Homo sapiens: one gene and its partners. The protein of the gene in region 1 interacts with the protein of each later gene in a biochemical or structural test. Each region holds a gene or a part of one and is shown in the gene's direction. Other genes may lie near its edges. The genes, in order: UBXN10, IFT88 and IFT56.

Region 1 (3,500 bases):
TCCATGACTCATCTGATCCCTTTTATGGCCAAATCATCCTTCAGAGTAGGGAACACTCAGACATTCTGTGCATGTTGTTCCCCCAAAGCATGGTCATCACAAAGTCCTGAGTTCTGGTGTGTGCTCCCGCCTCCTGGGTATACAGAGAGAAGGCAGGAATCAGGAGTTCCAGAAGCATATACATGTGGCTACCCCAGCAACAAGCGCATCCTGTGCTCAGATAAGCTGCATGGTTGGGAGTGTTTTTTCTCGCACGTTGAGGCTTAGTGGAGATGGGCACCACTGCCATTTGCTCAGAAGAAGGCTGGTCTGGTCCTAACTGCATCCCACACTGCCCAGATCATTCTAGAATAGGTTATTTCTGAATGTTTTATAGAATTTCTTAATACCATCCTGGTTTGGTCAGCCATTCCTTTGATTGGAAAGGTCAGCTGGGGCCAGTGGTGCCTCAGGCAGGCCCACACAACTGGCCACCTCTTCCCGTTAATGACCACAGCAGACAGAATTTGAGCCCAGCACCTAAAAGTACAGGAATTTCACTTCCCACCAGGACTTGAGCACATAACTCTATGTCTGATCTAGGAGGCTGGGGGAAGAGCCTCCCATAAAATCACACCTACTCTGTGGTAAGAATAAAATCCCACCCACCTGGGACTTGGTAATTTCTCCAGACAGGAAAGCTTTAGAAAACTTGAGTGAAATGGAGCAAGCTTGAAGGAGTTAGAATCTTCTGTGCTTAGGGTTTGCTGCTGCTGGTGAGCTTAGAATTTTGGGGTTGGGAAAAAGTGGAAGGCATAAGCATAGAAATATTTTAGGATATTTTAGGATATGTGAATAAAGCTAGACTCAAACCATCATAATAAACATTTTTTTTTTGGACAAAAGATGATACGATAAAAACCAACTTGTGTGAAACTGAGTCAGTGGAGAAGTGCATCTCGTATTTTAACCTAAGGCTTCAGCTCCCACACACGACTGGACAGAGGGGTGTGTTAGCCTGATCTTCAGTTTTCTCATTGGGAAAGCACTTGTTCCACTGTTAGAACCAAGTCCTCCTCCCCGGACACTTCTGATGCCCACTGCAGAAGCGACGGGGCTCCTGCTCTCAGCTTCTGTCACAGCACTTAGCTTGTCTGGATAAGAGTCACCTGAATTTTTCCTAAACATCATTCCAAGTACTCTGATTTTGGGGATTGGCAAGAACAAACTAAATCAGAATTCAGAGTTCCTGATGGCTCCACATGTTGCATTGCAGCTGAGGCCCCCTGTCCTAAATGGGCTCAACCGGCCTAGCACACTCCTCTTGGTGGCTTTGGGTGGGTCAGCCTTGCCCAGTTTGGGGTCATAGACCTCAGTTATTCATTTAACCGATGGCCATTGAGGGCTTACCCAGTGCCACACTTTGAGACAAGCATGGGTGTCCTGAAAAGAAAGTGTTGGCAAGAAAACATGAACCCACCATTGGACTCTCAACTCAAACCTTACTGAAGTCAGTGGCTATAGCTTTATCTGCAAAGGACCCCAAAGTGAGGATCCCACATTGTTACTGCTGGCTCTTCATCCCACCCTCTGGAGATGCTAAGGAAGCTCTTGCCCACCTTTTCTAGTGATGGAGTAGGAACTTTGCATAGGACAAACCTTCATGATAGGTTACTCTAGTATATTCCCTCATAAAGTCCAATAGGTAAATTAGTCTTGGCAGCAGAAGGAACAGCAGGAGAAGTAAGTGATTCATCATCTAGAATCCAGAAAATTTGCACCAACAGATGGCAGGTGGTTATAACACAACAGATCTTGCCCTGAGAATATCTGGGGACCCAGCCAACAGCCTTCAAGGCAGGGCACTCCTGCGGAAGAGATGGCTTGTGAACATGACTGTGGACCCAGAGTCACCCCAGAGCTCCCATATAAAATGCTTCACAGAGAAACTAAGAGCAGCCTTGGGGCATTCATTCCAATTAATAACCTTAAAGACTAGAGCCAGATCCACCTGCATTACAAAAGCAGGCATTCGAGGAACTAAACTTTGCTTTTGTTCATGCTCTTACCTGCCGTTTTAAATGGGTTTCTAATGTCAAATAAAGCCACCCTGCCTCTTGGGACAAAGATGTTTCTCTTTACTTAGTTTTAAAAATAAAATCCTCATAATAAGTTCGGATAAAAGAGACTTTTACATGGTAAGAGGATCTACTTTTCTACCTTTTAAACGGAATAAAGAAGACAGCTATATTATTTTGCTTTAGCATTAGTTTAGAAGTCATTCCAAGAATTAAGCAGGAACATCTGTTTTCTCAGTCCATTAAGGCAACACCCCACAGTAAAGTTAAAAGTTCACGAGCCTATTGACTCTCATCCAGAAACCAGAACCAACCAAACCCCACCATATAACAGGGAAGGCCTGAGGTCGCTTCGGAGGAGTTAGCAATCAAAGGAGAACAGACTTTTGGTGACTCAGTTACCAACACACAACACTCATAAAACTAAAATTAGGTGTTTTATTTTTTGTCTACACGGGTGGCGTGCCACTTTCCTTTCCTGATTAGGGAAGCTTCTCCCAGCCCTTTCTGACGTTCATCTGTGTGCCTTTATGTTCAAACAGTTTAGGAAGCAGCAGCCCTCCTAACAGTCGACGCGGAAGCACAAATCTCTGGAGGTATTTTTGGACACACTTAAATCCTATCCCAAGAGACTGAACGACTGTGGTGACAAATGCCCACGGGTAAAACTGAGCAAGCCTCATTCAGACTGTCCTGCTCAGAGGCGCCCTCTGGCTGCCGTGTTGAGGGGCTGGGGTGGAAGATGGAAGACTTGAGTGCTGGAGGTATGAAGGTGACCAGAGAGAGGTGATGGTGGTTCGGGCCAGGGTGGTAGCCAGAGATGTCATGAGAGGTGGCCAGATTCTGGACATATAATCCATTTTCTTAAGGAGAAAAAAAAGGATAGTTTGACAAGTTGGGATTCACCCAGGTGGACTTAGCTTGACCAATATCGCCAACGTGGATTGTTTCTGCAAAAACAAACAAGCAAACAACCACCACGGCAGCAAAGCACATGGCAGGCAGGGGAAAGACACTGACCAGCAGGAACATTCCCATCAAGGAAATGCACGAGTGTTTTTGGACAAAGTGTACAGAGAAAATCAAAGCTATTCATTGTTTTAATTAAGAGATAAAACTAAGGTCACTGTTTCACTTAATGTTGAGATATAAGTTAAAAGTATCATCTACCTCTAGGGGTATGATATGACTGCTGACCAAGGTTACTTAATAAGAAATCCTTGTTCTAGTTAAATACACTGTTTATCTCTATCTCCTGTCCTTCATCCCTCCCTTTCTTGCCACCCTTCCCTCCATTTATTCCAGTCCAGCAGCTGACTGGGGATGCATTTCTTCTTGGGAAGGCAAACAAAGCCATCATTCTGGGGCTTAATTAATAAAGCTCCTAGTTTCATAGTTTTCATGCTCACCTCGTGTTTATATGAGGGGATCTGTGCAGTGGGG
Region 2 (3,737 bases), on another chromosome or scaffold:
GGCATATAAAATAATGTTCTATGAGGGTAGTGGGGAAAAAAAACTAATGCCTCTAATTTCTAGCAACATTTATTTAATTCTGAAAAGACACCTCCATAATGTTTGCACTTCTGTTTAAAAGGGTGTATTTTCAGTGGGTAAAGGTTTCATATGCTAAACACATAGGAAAAAAAGGGCGTTTGAAATTTTGAAGTGTTAGATGCTTACTGTTTATAGCTGATACTCTACGATTCCATGAAATCTTTCAGGGATAATTTATGATGATCATTTTTTACCTTTAGGAACATAATTTACTATAAATTAATTACTTAAATTGTAATTTAGTATATAGAGCTTACTATACAGATTCTTCTGATAGACTTTAAGGTTTAAGATATTTCCACGTTTAATTTATATTTAGTTCACGATCTTGCTTATTTCTTTGATCACCAGCAGCATTAATGATACACATTTATTCTTTGTAGGTCCTCCAGAGATTAATAGATGGCAAATACTACTAAATTAAATAGAATACATAGAAAATTAAGGTGAAATTTAGAGGACAGGTCTTCTTTTCTTAATGTTCATTTGTAATGCAAGATAATTCTTTTGTTTACTTAATTTCATAATTGGCTGAGTATCTTGATATAAGTAGCTAACTTTGTTATAGGATTTTAATCTCTAGAAAGATTATAGGTGAAAGGGGCCTAAAGTGGTCTTATGTGTCTTTTCTATAATATTTTCTTCCTTAGGTTCTTTTCAATTTGGCCAGTCAGTATTCAGTTAATGAAATGTATGCCGAAGCACTTAACACTTATCAAGTTATAGTCAAAAATAAGATGTTTAGCAATGCAGGTAAGTGTACATAATCAGTTTTTCCAATAGATGTAATTCTTTCGTAGTGTTAATTTATGTCTCTTCATTTTATGCTTCCTTAAAATGAAATGATCTATGCTCTAAACAAATCAGTATTTATGATAGGGGTATCCTGCTTAAACATACTATTTATATAAAAATCCTTACAGATGAAGAAATATAGTTAGTATGAGGTATATTGCCTAATAGTATCCTGTTATCACAAGTAGAATGAGCCATGACATCCTCATAGAATGTGCTTTTCCTTATATAAATTTATCCCCAAGAGATTATAGTTTATATTTAGCATTTATATTGTGTAATTTTTTGGTAGCAGTATTAATGTTTATCAGAATGTCGTTTCCTTTAATATTATTAAAATGTATGTGGCATTCTTGAGTCTAACTTTTAAATGTCTTTAAGTTCCATGTTTTCTTAGAAGAACGCACAATAATGTAAAGCACAATAATGTAAATCAGTTGTTTTCTAGCCATAGTTTCAGGAATCTGTCTTAAGTTCCATTTCTTCACAGGAGGTAAGTTTGAAAAGTATAACTGTTTTAAAGTTAGAATTTTAGATAATATCTGAGACTTCATAACTGAGAAATGCTTCAGAGAATATGAATTAAAAGTCATCTAAAATATCAAAGAGTGGAAAAATGAGAGTATTATACATTCATTAAATTTTTTTAAATTAGGAATATTGAAAATGAATATGGGAAATATCTATTTAAAGCAAAGAAATTATTCCAAAGCCATTAAATTCTACCGAATGGCATTAGACCAAGTTCCAAGTGTCAATAAGCAAATGAGGTAAGTTTATAACAATAGATAATAATTGTAAAATTTAAGTGTTTTTCTGAAACAAGATAACTCTTCTGACCTGTTTTCAGTGGGTTGAACATTTCAAAGTGTTTGTACATGAGATTTATACGTGTAGTATTTTGATCTGTTCCCTTCTTACTACTTGTACACATTTTTATAATGACAAGTTAAAGGTTAAAGCATTGTATATGATCATATGAAATAAAACTAAGTGACCAATAAAGGGGTTAACCCTGAAGGCCATTACTACCCTGATATAACTTAATGCGGACACAAAATCATAATAGCAGTCCTCCAGAACATATCAATACAAGGCTAGAAATTAAGCTCCCCTTACGTTCTTGCTGTAGCTTGAGAATGAAATAGAGAAAAGGATTACTTCTGAGTCTTAGAAGAGGGGGAAGCTGGGATATTTTCTATTATAATATTCAGGAGCAGAAACAGTAAGTTCTCTTATGGTCTAGTGATAACTGTGGGGACATAGGAAGTTTCCAAGATATTTACTGATCATAATTTCCCCTAGGCACAGTACAGTTTCTCTGTGAAAGTTAATTTATTTGCAATACCATCTTTTAAGATCATTCGTTTTTGAATTTTACATAATATCTCATTATCATTAGCAAATATTATCTAACTTACAGAACACAATGCCCTTGAAGTACTTTTAAGCCAGGTGAGACCAAGAATTTGAGCATTTTAGAAAAAAAATTGTATTGAGTAACATATATTAAGTGCTTCATAATCAATAATCAAGACAATGGGTGCTATAATAATTCAGTGGAAGAAATCATTATTGAGAACAAGAATGATCAAGAAAGGCTTTATGAAGGAGGCATACTTGATATTGACTCTTTAGGAGGAGAGAAGGGATAACATCTGAGAAAAAGGCAACACCTGAGACCAGTCAGGGAAATAATAGTCTTTATGATCTGATCAGAGAATTATGAATAAACTAATTGAGTTGAAATAGAGGGATTATATTGAGGAGTGTTTAGAAATAAGGTGGGATCACATCCATTAGAATGGCTCCAATCAAAGAAACAATAAGTTTTGGTGAGTATTTAGAGAAATTAGAAACCTCATTCACTGAGATGTCAAATGGTGCAGCTACTTCGGAAAACAGGCAGTTAGCTAAAAAAGTTAAAACACAAATTTACCATGTGACCAGCAATTCTGCTTTTAGGTATATACCCAAGAGAAATGAAAATATAGATCGTCACAAAGGCTTTTACACAAACATTCATAACAATTATTCATAATAGCCAAAAAGTAGAAACAAGACGAATGTCTACCAAGTAGGCAATGTATAAATAAAATATGGTATGTATTCATACTATGAAATGCTATTTGACAAAAAAAGGAATGAAGTACTGATACATGCTACAAAATGGAAGAATCTCAAAAAATTATGCCAAGTGAAAGAAGCAAGACAAAATATCACAAATTGTATGACTCCATTTATGTACAATGCCTAGAAGAGACAGAGAGACAGAAAATAGACTAATGGGCCGGGCACGGTGCCTCATGCCTGTAATCCCAGCACTTTGGGAGGCCGAGGCGGGCGAATCACCTGAAGTCAGGAGTTCCAGACCAGCCTGACCAGTATGGTGAAACCCCGTCTCTACTAAACATACAAAAATTAGCCCGGCGTGGTGGCATGTGCCTATAATCCCAGCTATTCAGGAGGCTGAGGTGGGAGAATTGCTTGAACCCAGGAGGCAGAGGTTCCAGTGAGCAGACATCATGCCACTGCATTCCAGCCTGAGCAACAGAGAGAGACCCTGTCTGAAAAAAAAAAAAAAAGACTAATGGTTACCTAGGGCTGGGAATAAGAATGGGGAATGACTGTTAATGAGCACAGGTTTTATTTTTAGGGTAATGGAAATGAATTAAAATAAGGATGTGGTTATAGTTCCACAACTATATAAATACAGCAATAATTATCGAATCATATACTTAAAATGAGTGAATTTTATGGTATTTATATAAAGCTTTTATCAATAAAGCTTTAACAAAACAAAAACGAAGTAAAGTGGGAGACGAAAAAAGAAAACTATTTGTGAATGGTTTGAATGCCAT
Region 3 (3,737 bases), on another chromosome or scaffold:
TTCTCTAACAACACTAATATGAATCTTTACATGTCTTTTCCACTCTCACAATTTTAGTTTAATGATGAGAAAAAATTGATGAGCTTTCATCAAAATCTTCAGGATGTCACAGAAGATCAACTCAGTTTGGCCTCAATCCACTATATGCGATCTCACTACCAAGAAGCTATAGATATATATAAGCGAATACTGCTAGATAACAGGTCTGTGTCCTTTTATGCCCACTCTCCATTCCTTTCATTTTGTTAGTTTCTTCTTTAACTAGTTTGAGAATCTAGTGTCCTCTGGATCTAGTACCACTATGTGTTCAAATCTGTTTAGTTGATAATTTGGTGAGATTAAGAATTAGATATTGTCTAAATCAGGCTTTCTCTACCTTTTTTTGCATTGTCACCCTTCTAAAAGACTTTTTCCCCCAATTGCCCTCCCATGAAATTTTAATATACTGATAGATGTATATTAATATATATCCATATATGTACTATATGTATAACTGTGCTTTACATATAAAATGATTATGATTTTTTCATCCTCCCATTAAGAACCAATTTTTCCCCTTTGGGGGTAATACTGATATTACCCCAGTTGAAATGTATGGTCTAGATGTATCAAACTTAGTGTTATAGTTACATCGTAGGTAACTTGCTGACAAAATTAGATACAAATCATTCTTAAGAATTTACATTCCAACTTTAAACACTTGGCCTCTCTCTCCCTTCCCAAAAATATCTCATCCCCCTTCTTTCCATCCTCTTTTGCATTACCTTCTTAGTCTCCTACCTGCTTCCATTTCCAGCCATCAAGCCTATGTGTCTTGTCTGTTGGTCTTCTGTGTGGAGTGTGCTTGTGTTTATGTTCAATTATTGCATATATTAGTTTTTCAGTGTGAACAGCGTGAACTTTCCCTTTCTTCTCTAGTCATCTTTCATTCTACTTATATCAAAACACCCAAATATTGCAATGCAAAAAGAAAAAAATTATACTGATCATATCTTGCCCTCTTTCTTCATAAGGCAGGTTCATGAACTGTCCTCTTTGCCTTGTCCATTTGAGCTTTGTAATTTGACATTTCCGTGAAGTAGACTTAAATGGTTAACCCTAATTCTTTCATCTAATAGGGAATACCTTGCCCTTAATGTTTATGTGGCCCTCTGCTACTACAAGTTGGATTACTATGATGTGTCTCAAGAAGTTTTGGCTGTTTACCTTCAGCAAATTCCTGATAGTACCATCGCACTCAATCTTAAAGCCTGTAACCATTTTCGCCTTTACAATGGCAGAGCAGCTGAGGTATTGATGGAAGTGTGTTTTTAATGTACTTCATTCCAATTTGAATTACTTTATACTTTCCAAGTTATTCATGAAACTCTGTTATCTGTAACTCTTGATTAATATCCCTTTATCATTGCCACTGTGATTCTATAAGAACCTAATTATATGTTTATCAGGTATTCTAAAAAGAATGTTGACTTCTGAATTATCTGTGTTATGTCCATTAAATTGTAGATGATTTTACTGAGATGCCCTACATTTAAAACCAAATGCTTATGTTTAAAACCAAATGCTTCTGGCCGGGCGCTGTGGCTCAGCACTTTGGGAGGCCAAGGCGGGCAGATCACTTGAGGCCAGGAGTTTGAGACCAGCCTAGCCAACATGGCCCCATCTCTACTAAAAATACAAAAAATTAGCTGGGTGTGGTGGTGCATGCCTGTAATCCCAGCTACTGGGGGGTTCGGGGGGCGGGTGGAGGTTTCAGTGAGCCGAGATTGAGCCACTGCACTCCAGCCTAGGTGACAGAGCGAGACTCTGTCTCAAAAAAACCCAAAAACCAAAAAACAAATGCTTCAGCTTCTTCCTCTAAAATATGTGTGTGGCTCTGTGATTGAATGCCACCAACATACATCCAGTAAACCACATTAGAAACCTGGCATATCTGGGCCAGGCACGGTGGCTCACGCCTGTAATCCCAGCACTTTGGGAGGCTGAGGCAGGCGGATCACAAGGTCAGGAGATCGAGACCATCCTGGCTAACACAGTGAAACTCCATCTCTACTAAAAACACAAAAAATTAGCTGGGCGTGGTGGCGGGCGCCTGTAGTCCCAGCTACTTGGGAGGCTGAGGCAGGAGAATGGCGTGAACTCGGGAGGCAGAGCTTTCAGTGAGCCGAGATGGTGCCACTGCACTCCAGCCTGGGTGACAGAGCGAGACTCCATCTCAAAAAAAAAAAAAAAAGAACCCTGGCATATCTGTTGACTCTCTTCTTCATCTCCATGTAATCATCAGTTCCTATCAGCTATACATCCTAGATATCTCTTTTATCTATCCCTTCTTCTCCTTGGCTACTATTCTAACCCAGGAGTTTCTCACCTCTTATTTTGGCCCTTTAAATAGTGTTCCTGCCTTTAGTCAGTCTTGTTATCTTCAGTCCAACCACTGAATTTGTTCCACATGCCATGCTCTCTTACCACCATAGCTTTGTGTGCAACATTCTCACTCCTGGAATGACTTCCTTCTTTCTCTGCTTGGTACACGTCAACAAAGGTTAGCCCAAGAGGCAAAAATGGTGGACATTTTATAAATACTTAATTGGCTAACTTGTAGGCACCATGCAGAACACTTTAAATCCATTATTTAGTTTCCCTGACAAGCCTGTGGTTAGAGGCTATTGTAGTTCTCGTTTTATAGGAAACCGAGAAAACACAGGAGGCCATAGATTATTACCTCCTTTTGTTTCATTTAACATGTTTTAAATAACACATAACTTTACTAACATTTTAATAACATAATTTTATTTAACACATACACATATATACATATATAATATATAGATATAGGTAGATACATACATAGATATAGAATAGAAAATATGTTCTACACTATATCTATATACAAATATGTGGGTATAAATAGATCATTTAACATGGTTATTACTTTAGTTGATGTCAGAAGCCACCAAAATTTACATGTAAAATTTCTGCATGTGTCAAACTTTAAAAATCCTACCCTTGCCCTCCAAATTGAATTGCTTAGTATACACTTGAGCACATAGTATATACTTATATATTAAATAAAATGCATTCTTGGGGTAATAGTCATTTCAACTAAGGAGTCCCCCAAGTCTGCCTAATTGGCTTGTTTCCAGCATCAGCAGTTTAGTAAGAGACTCGATTAGCAATTTGGTATCTTTAGAGTTTTCACCCGTTAGTAAGAACAAATAAATGAAATACATTCTTGCCTTTCTACCTAGAGTCAGTCTTGGGGAAATTTACCAATTTTGGTGTGTGGTCCAATTTATTAAATGTTTACATTTTGTCTGTATATGTCTTTTCCATAGTCTAGTATGGTTACTCAATATCCTATCTATAGTATACACCTAGAATTATCCAAGTTAGGACATCAGAGTGTACTTCTAACCTCAAAAGGCAAGCTTTTTCCTTTGAAATTGTGTCAATGTAGTTTATATATTGATTTTATAATGTACTCCAGCAGTAGAAGGCTATGTCAAATGTACCAGAAGAACCTTTTTTTGGTACCAATAAGATAGAGTTTATGTTTAATTATTATAATTTTAATAAACTATTTAAATTCAGGCATTCTTCTAACTTGTATAACAGGGTCTGTATTACATTGTTCAGTGTCTCACAAACACCAATAGCATCCTGCTTTTCTAAAGTAAACAGGAAATAATTTGTAATGATTGACTTAATTCTTAAACTACTTTGAGTAACTTGTTCAG

What was found.
Region 2: the proteins of UBXN10 (region 1) and IFT88 form a complex in vitro, tested with the Homo sapiens proteins (one study listed by BioGRID).
Region 3: the proteins of UBXN10 (region 1) and IFT56 form a complex in vitro, tested with the Homo sapiens proteins (one study listed by BioGRID).

Annotation. Positions count from the first base shown.
Region 1 is NC_000001.11:20,192,596-20,196,095, forward strand, and holds the end of UBXN10 (UBX domain-containing protein 10), read left to right. Parts: 3' UTR 1-3,455; downstream 3,456-3,500. UniProt on the Homo sapiens protein: VCP/p97-binding protein required for ciliogenesis. Acts as a tethering factor that facilitates recruitment of VCP/p97 to the intraflagellar transport complex B (IFT-B) in cilia.
Region 2 is NC_000013.11:20,597,920-20,601,656, forward strand, and holds part of IFT88 (intraflagellar transport protein 88 homolog), read left to right. Parts: intron 1-731; coding exon 732-834; intron 835-1,531; coding exon 1,532-1,646; intron 1,647-3,737. UniProt on the Homo sapiens protein: Positively regulates primary cilium biogenesis. Also involved in autophagy since it is required for trafficking of ATG16L and the expansion of the autophagic compartment.
Region 3 is NC_000007.14:139,147,088-139,150,824, forward strand, and holds part of IFT56 (intraflagellar transport protein 56), read left to right. Parts: exon of another isoform or gene 1-57; coding exon 58-203; intron 204-1,118; coding exon 1,119-1,290; intron 1,291-3,737. UniProt on the Homo sapiens protein: Component of the intraflagellar transport (IFT) complex B required for transport of proteins in the motile cilium.